2 linked regions of the Homo sapiens genome follow. The main gene of each other region encodes a partner of the protein of the gene in region 2 in a complex. Each region holds a gene or a part of one and is shown on either strand. Other genes may lie near its edges. The genes, in order: CDK2AP1 and MTA3.

Region 1 (3,815 bases), on a different chromosome or scaffold from region 2:
GAGATGAACTGTAACTTCTCATCTTGTAAAAAGATGGAAATCCTTCAAAACCAACAAGGCAGCTAGGATCTGGCATTCCGTTCCGTTTCTGCCAAGCACTCCCGAACCAGTCCTCTAGCGTGAATGATGCCTGAAACAGAGGCAGAGACCTGAGGTCAGCAAGTGCACAGGACCAGCCAGCAAAGCCCATTCTGAAACAGCAAGAGGATCCATCCTTCCACAGCCTGTCCACAAAACCCTCAGACATAAAGAGAACCAGGGAAACCTATAACCAAGCAACCCTGAAGGACGCTAACAATCCCATCCCTCTCTAAAGCCCTTCCCTCCTCACCACAACTCTTCCTGTCTCTCTAAACATTTTTTCCTGCATTCAAGGTGCACCAGCAAGCTGTCCTTCCACGACACTGTTGGATGAAAGACATGTCTCCACCCAAATTCTTTTGCTTGACCCACTATGGAGATTTTTCTCTGGCTTCTTCAGTCTGAATTCTAGACAGGGCTTGACCGGCGTAAGTAAGCAAGAGAATGGCTTCAGCTGCACACGTGAGGGCGCAGAGAACTGACTACTACCCACGCGGGACCCTGGGTCCACGGGGACAACCCCACAAGACTGCAGCTACCTTCTGCCCGATGAATCTTCCCCAGTCTTTTGTCTCTGTGGTTTGGTGCTTACCTTTTTTTTCTTTCTGCCTCTACTGAACTTCATGAAATATGATCTTTTAATAGACACTAAGGATTCTATTCCTTCTAATACATGACTCCCAGAGGCCACTGGGAATGACATCCCACATCATCACCTCACAAATCTTAGAAACTAACTCAGAGCCTTGGAGAATGTTTTCTGTGAGGACCAGACAGCAAATATTTTGAGCTTTGCAGGCTACAGTCTCTGACACAACTACTTCACTCAAATTTTTTTTGAGACAGCATCTTGCCCTGTCACCCAGGCTGGAGTGCAGTGGCACGATCACAGCTCACTGCAGCCTCAACCTGCCAGGATCAGGTGATCCTCCCACCTCAGCCTCCGGAGAAGCTGGGACTATAGGCACGCACCACCATGCCTGGCTGTTTTATCATTATTTGTAGAGATGGGAGTTTCACTATGTTGCTCCTGGCTTTAGCCTCCCAAACTGCTGGATTACAGGCATGCACCATCACACCTGGACCCACAAACCTTTATTTATGAACACTTAAGTCTGAATTTCAGATAACTTTCACACGTCCCAAAATCATTTTTTTTTTCAACCATTAAGAACCATGCCTGTCGCGGTGGCTCACACCTGTAATCCCAGCACTTTCGGAGGCCGGGGCGGGTTGCCCACTTGAGGTCAGGAGTTTGAGACCAGCCTGGCCAACATGGTACAACCCCATCTCTACTAAAAATACAAAAATTAGATGGGCGTGGTGGTGGGCGCCTATAATCCCAGCTACTCGGGAGGCTGAGGCAGAACTGCTTGAACCCGGGAGGCGGAGGTTGCAGTGAGCCGAGATCGCGCCACTGCACTCCAGCCTGGGTGATAGAGCGAGACTCTGTCTCAAAAAAAAAAAAAAAACAAAAAAAAACCACTATTCTTGGCTCCTGGCTCTTGGGCTGTAGTTGCCAACCTACCTACAATGCTCCTAGCTCCTAACTCCCTGACCCCTCTATGACGTGTTTTCACCCTGCTGTGACATGAGCTTGGTAAGCTTGGGCTTGGCTGTTGGCCAAGGGGTAGCACTAGGTCTTCCTTGTTACTAAAAGACTGGCAGTTTGTACGCATTTGCTGACTTGAACCAGTGCCTTTTCTGGGTGACTGCAAATTACCTGTTGGACTCTGGGACCCAGCATCTTCCCAGGAATTTCCATTCAGGTAAGCAGCACCCCAGCTACCGGAGAGCAGCCCTGGGACCACCCAACTCTCCAGGCGAGACCAGGGTTGGGCTCTGCATCCCTTCCCCCAGGCCCTCTTCAATCACATCCTCTAACCCTGGTAGTCCCAACCTAGCTTTGAGACCCGTCAACCTCTTCACAAAGGTTTCATAAACTCCAGAGCAACCCCGCTCCTGGCAGCAGCCTGTCCTCAACTGGCCCTCGTGTCACTGGGGCATAACTTCAACTACAGCCCCCATTTATGCTACAGATTTACAACCAAAGAAAGTTCCTCTCCCAGGCCGGGCACGGTGGCTCAACGCCTGTAATCCCAGCACTTTGGGAGGCCAAGGCGGGAGGATCACAAGGTCAAGAAATCGAAACCATCCTGGCCAACCAACATGGCGAAACCTGGTCTCTACTAAAAATACAAAAATTAGCTGGGTATAGTGGCGCACGCCTGTAGTCCCAACTACTCGGGAGGCTTGAGGCAGGAAAATTGTTTGAACCCGGGAGGCGGAGGTTGCAGTGGGCCGAGATCGTGCCACTGCACTCCAGCCCAGGTGACAGAGCTAGACTCCATCTCAAAAAAAAAAAAAAGAATGTTCCTCTCCCAGGTTGCTTCTCCAGCCTTTTTAAGAACCCCAAGTCCCAGGCCGGGCGTGGTGGCTCACGCCTGTAATGCCAGCACTTTGGGAGGCCAAGGCAGGTGGATCACCTGAGGTTGGGAGTTCAAGACCAGGCTGACCAACTTGGAGAAACCCTGTCTCTACTAAAAATACAAAAAATTAGACAGGTGTGGTGGCACATGCCTGTAATCCCAGCTACTTGGGAGGCTGAGGCAGGAGAATCGCTTGAACCCAGGAGGCGGAGGTTGCGGTGAGCCGAGATTGCACCACTGCACTCCAGCCTGGGCAACAAGAGTAAAACTCCGTCTCCCAAAAAAAAAAAAAAAAAAAAAAAAAAAAAGAGCCCCAAGTCTCCCCTCATCTTGAATGCGTTCATGGGCTATGGCTCTGCTGCACTGTCGCCTTCTAAAATAGAAATCCTGTCCTACCTCCACTCCCCTTTTATTTCAGAAGGTAGCAACCTATTTAACGTCCTTTCGAAATCAGACGGACAGTCACACCTTAACACGAGTCCCTTGTGCTCTGTCATCTCCTGCCTGCCCTCCCTCTCCAACCATTAAAGAACAAAGTGCTCTCAGCCTCCCTCCCCAGACCCTAGCACAGACCCACACACTTCCTTGGGTCTCCCTCCAAAGAGGTGACAGCAGAGGGCAGTGCAGGCACCGATGAACCCTGAGCTTGGCTTCCCTAGGACCAGTGTCGGCCCACAGGAGCAGACCAGGCAGGGTCGGGGGCAGGGGGCACTTCGAACACACCCTTGAAAGCCAGCAGACCCCCTGGCAGCACACAGGGTAAGAAGGGCTCCCTGCCTGGGCTGCCCTTCCCAGAAGACCCCTCTGAAGACATCCAGCCCCCCAGGCCCCTCGCTACCAGACCCATCGCCTGCCTGAGGCCTCCACCACAGACGGCAACTCTGTAACAAGACAGGAGCTCCCATGAGTGAGCCTCATCCCTAGCCCACCTTCCCACATTTTCCCCAAAAGTCTTTCCAGAGTTAAAGGTCTAGCACTGTGGTCACCGACAGGGCAGCGGGGCCGGGCTTACCGCGCTTCAGCCTCTCCATGGCACTCTTGCTCCCTGCGTACGTGGGTCTGATCTCCTTCCCCAGCTCTTCAATGATGGCCAGCAGCTCCGCGTATTTGCTTTGGGGCACCTGGCTGTTCCCAGTTCCCTAGAATCAGAAAGAAATGGGTTCAGCAAAATCAGCCGGGCGTGGTGGTGCGTGCCTGTAGTCCCAGTTACTCAGGAGGCTGAGGCAGGAGAACTGCTTGGACCCAGGAGGTGGAAGTTGCAGTGAGCCAAGATCACTCCACTGCACTCCAGCCTGGGCAACAGAG
Region 2 (3,815 bases):
ACCAATTTTTAAAGCCACAACTGACGGAAATAATTTATTTCAGTCATTTAAACACACCTCGTCCAAACCCATTCCCAGAAAGCACTAGCTAAGTGTAAAATCACCAAGCCCTCCCCTAAGTATCCCATGTTCCATGGACAGTGAAGCTCTGCAGGTGGGAAGCAGCCATCATGCAGAATAGACCAGGTGACCTGGAAAAGCATTCTCTACACCAAGGAAGTCTATGAATCTCTAAGAGTCAATATTCTAAGCAGTACTTAGTTTACCTTCACATCTAAAAATATTAAAAACCTTGAGTTATGAACACTGAAACTCTCATTTCTTTTTGGCTACAATCTACAATGCAAACAATATTCAGTTAGGTTCTTCCAAAGTATGATGGCTTCAAAAAAAAATTCAGTTATGCTGTCATTTACTGCAGCTGGGGCCCAGGCTCCTGCTCTCCTATTCTCTAGAATTCTGAGAGCTCTCAAGAAGGTCAATCATTCATTACAAAGTTCCCTGTAAAAACACACAGATTATAATAAAATGCTATTGTGATTTCCATTTTCAAACAAGTGTGAGAACAAATTTTCAGAAATTTCTCTGGTCTTACAGATATACTCAAATACAAAGAAGAATATAAGTGCTGCAGTAAATTTGTCAATTTTATGAAGTCCAGCAGCCGTATTTTAGATTAAGAAATAGTCCTGTGGAAACAGTGCCCCTTAAAACTGAAATCATATTAAATTTCTAACCAAAGTGCTTCTATATTTCATAATATTGTGATCAAATACATTCTCCAGAAGTAATGATCCAGCAATCTGCTAAATGAACAGGCCAAAATTTCCATGTAAATAAAATAAAATCTATCAATGACTTCAAATATAAGCTCTTAGTCATTTCTGTCTTCTTGAGATATGCCTTGAAACTGCTGCTTTGGATTTTCAATGTGATTTTTGTCTCTTCTTGAGACATTAAAAATCCAGGCCGGGTGCGGTGGCTCACACCTGTAATCCCAACACTTTGGGAGTCCAAGGTGGGCAGATCACGAGGTCAGGAGTTCTAGACCAGCCTGGCCAACATAGTAAAACCCCATCTCTACCAAAAATACAAAAATTAGCTGGGTGTGGTGGCACACACCTGTAGTCCCAGCTACTCGGGAGGCTGAGGCAGGAGAATCGCTTGAACCTGGGAGGTGGAGGTTGCAGTGAGCCAAGACCACACCACTGCACTCCAGCCTGGGTGACACAGTGACAATCCGTCTCAAAAAAAAAAAAAAATCCAAATCAACAGTTTCAAGGCATATTTTTTTCTGCCTCACTAGTGAGTTCCTCCAATAGGGATGCTATACAAAGCTAATTAAATTCTTATTTAAACCTGCTTAGGGGGCGGGGAGCATAGTTCAAAATAAATAGTCTCTTCTTGACCATGCACTCACTTAGCTACTAGGTAGCTTACAGCTACCATATTCCTCTTCCCCTCTACAAACACACCCTCTCCAGCATTCTTCTGAAGCATGGTTACTCATGGGTCTACAGCCCAGTGCCAGTCTGCAACTGTTAATGGCATTTAATGAAATGAGTACAGGGTTTGAGACTAAGTGCATTACAGCAATTAAGAGTTCATTTTTATATATATATATATATATATATATATATTTTTTTTTTTTTTTAGATGGAGTACCATTCTGTTGCCAGGCTTGAGTGCAGTGGCACAATCTCGGCTCACTGCAACCTCCAACTCCCTGGTTCAAGCGATCCTCCTGCCTCAGCCTCCCAAGTAGCCTTTTTTCCCTAGCTTATCTATCAGAACAAAGTAAGTATTTTCAGTTTAGAGGTGGTTTTGTTTTGGTTTTTTTGTTTGTTTGTTGAGATGGAGTTTCACTGTTGCCCAGGCTGGAGTGCAATGGCACGATCTCAGCTCACTGCAACTTCCGCCTCATGGGTTCAAGCGATTCTCCTGCCTCAGCCTCCCGAGTAGCTGGGATTACAGGCATGCGCCACCATGCCCGGCTAATTTTGCACTTTTAGTAGAGACAGGGTTTCACCACATTGGCCAGGCTAGTCTCAGACTCCTCTCAGGTGATCCACCCACCTCGGCCTCCCGAAGTCCTGGGATTACAGGCGTGAGCCACCATATCTGGCCTTGTTTTGGTTTTTTTCAGAGATGGGGGGTCTTATTATGTTGCACAGGCTGGTCTCAAACCCCCAGGCTCAAGCAATCCTCCTGCCTCAGCCTCTCGAGCAGCTGGGACTACAGGCCTGAGCCACCATGCCTGTCTTCAAGTATTTTTAAATCATTATTTGGATTTTCCCATCATGTTAACAACTTTCCCTACCTAGCCAATTTCACCTCTGATCTTCCCAGGGCCTTTATCTAGAACACTCCTGCGTCCTCTCTTCCCATGGTTCCCTCTTCCTCATCCTTTAGGCCTCAACTTCAATGTCCTGTTCCACCCTACCTAAAGGAAATGACCTGTCATTCTCTATGTCAAGGTTCTTGCCTTCTTAGAAGTTAATACAATTCATTACTATTACTATTTTCTTTATGCCCATCAACTTGTCTTTCCGGGTGTCTCCCTCATTAGAATGTGGACCCTGTATGGGTAGAGACCATGTACATCTTGTTCACATTCTATCTCTGAGCCTAGCATAGTGCCTGGTACAAAACAGGTACTCAATAATATTTGCTTAATGAATTATCTAAAATAAGATGTCTTTTTCACATCCCTTCAGAAATAAAGACCCTATGTAAATATTTCAATTAGCCATTCAAACTACCATTTTGTGAAATTACAAAGAATCCCATCTCTCACAACACAACCCCAGTCCCAGAAACTCGCTATTACATGGATGACTCTGTGCTGACAACAGGTAGGCGGAGGGAGGAGGTGAGGATGGATGAGGGGGGCATTTCAGAAATGAATGGCCATGAAATGATAAAGGAGTGTGAAATAAGCTATGTTCACCTAGATGTGCAACCCAATAATTTAGCTACTATGTGCCTCAAGAAAACAATGCATGATTTAGCTACCTTAAGGTGTAAGGTTCTGTGAGGCTCAAAAGGGTAACAAACGTGAATCCTGGGTTAGGTTTCCAGAGCACCATGCTGTGACATTTCTAAACTTAGCACAGCTACAATTTTACTTTCACTTGTGGGACTATATGGTTGATGTCTGTCTCCACTAGACCTGTTTTTTTTTTATCACCCTTGCATTCTCACTGTCTAAAAGTACCTGGCTGGTAGAAGGTCCTCAATTTTATTTGTAAAATGAATGAATCAAAGCAGTTTGTAAATAGTAAAGCTATGTACACATAAGCATTAACATCAGACATTTCAGAAATTAATTAATTCAACAAGTATTTAGTGAATGCCTTTAACTATGTGCCAGCCACTATTCTAAGGCACTCAGAATGCATAACTGGACAAAACAGAAAAGATCACTGCAGCTGACACTCTAGGAAGACAGGTAATGAAAATAAACACAGTAAGTATATTTGGAGGTGATAAATGATATGGAAAAAAGAGCAAGGGGTGAGGGGTAGGACGGACACAAATAAACGGTCCTCCTAAGGTGGTTGCAGGGAGAAACAGCCAAAAGCCCATTGTGCTTTGTGCCAAGTAAGCAAGGCAGAGCTCCCACCTGCTTTCAGCGAAAGTGGAGGTCAGAGAGGGGCAGTGACAGCCAAAGAATATAGGGTCTCATAGGTCAAGATTTCTATTTCGATGTAATTAACTTTCTAATTAAACTGATATGGTAAATAGTTTAGAGTTGCCTCAATTCTTATACCTTACATCAATAACATAAAAGATCAGAATCACATGCCAACAGT

What was found.
Region 1: MTA3 (region 2) and CDK2AP1 share a complex: the UniProt entries of both Homo sapiens proteins name them as parts of the nucleosome remodeling and deacetylase (NuRD) repressor complex.

What each region holds. Positions count from the first base shown.
Region 1 is NC_000012.12:123,261,674-123,265,488, forward strand, and holds part of CDK2AP1 (cyclin-dependent kinase 2-associated protein 1), read right to left. Parts: intron 3,650-3,815; coding exon 3,523-3,649; intron 131-3,522; coding exon 63-130; 3' UTR 1-62. UniProt on the Homo sapiens protein: Inhibitor of cyclin-dependent kinase CDK2. Also acts as a component of the histone deacetylase NuRD complex which participates in the remodeling of chromatin.
Region 2 is NC_000002.12:42,574,931-42,578,745, reverse strand, and holds part of MTA3 (metastasis-associated protein MTA3), read right to left. Parts: intron 1-3,815. UniProt on the Homo sapiens protein: Acts as a component of the histone deacetylase NuRD complex which participates in the remodeling of chromatin.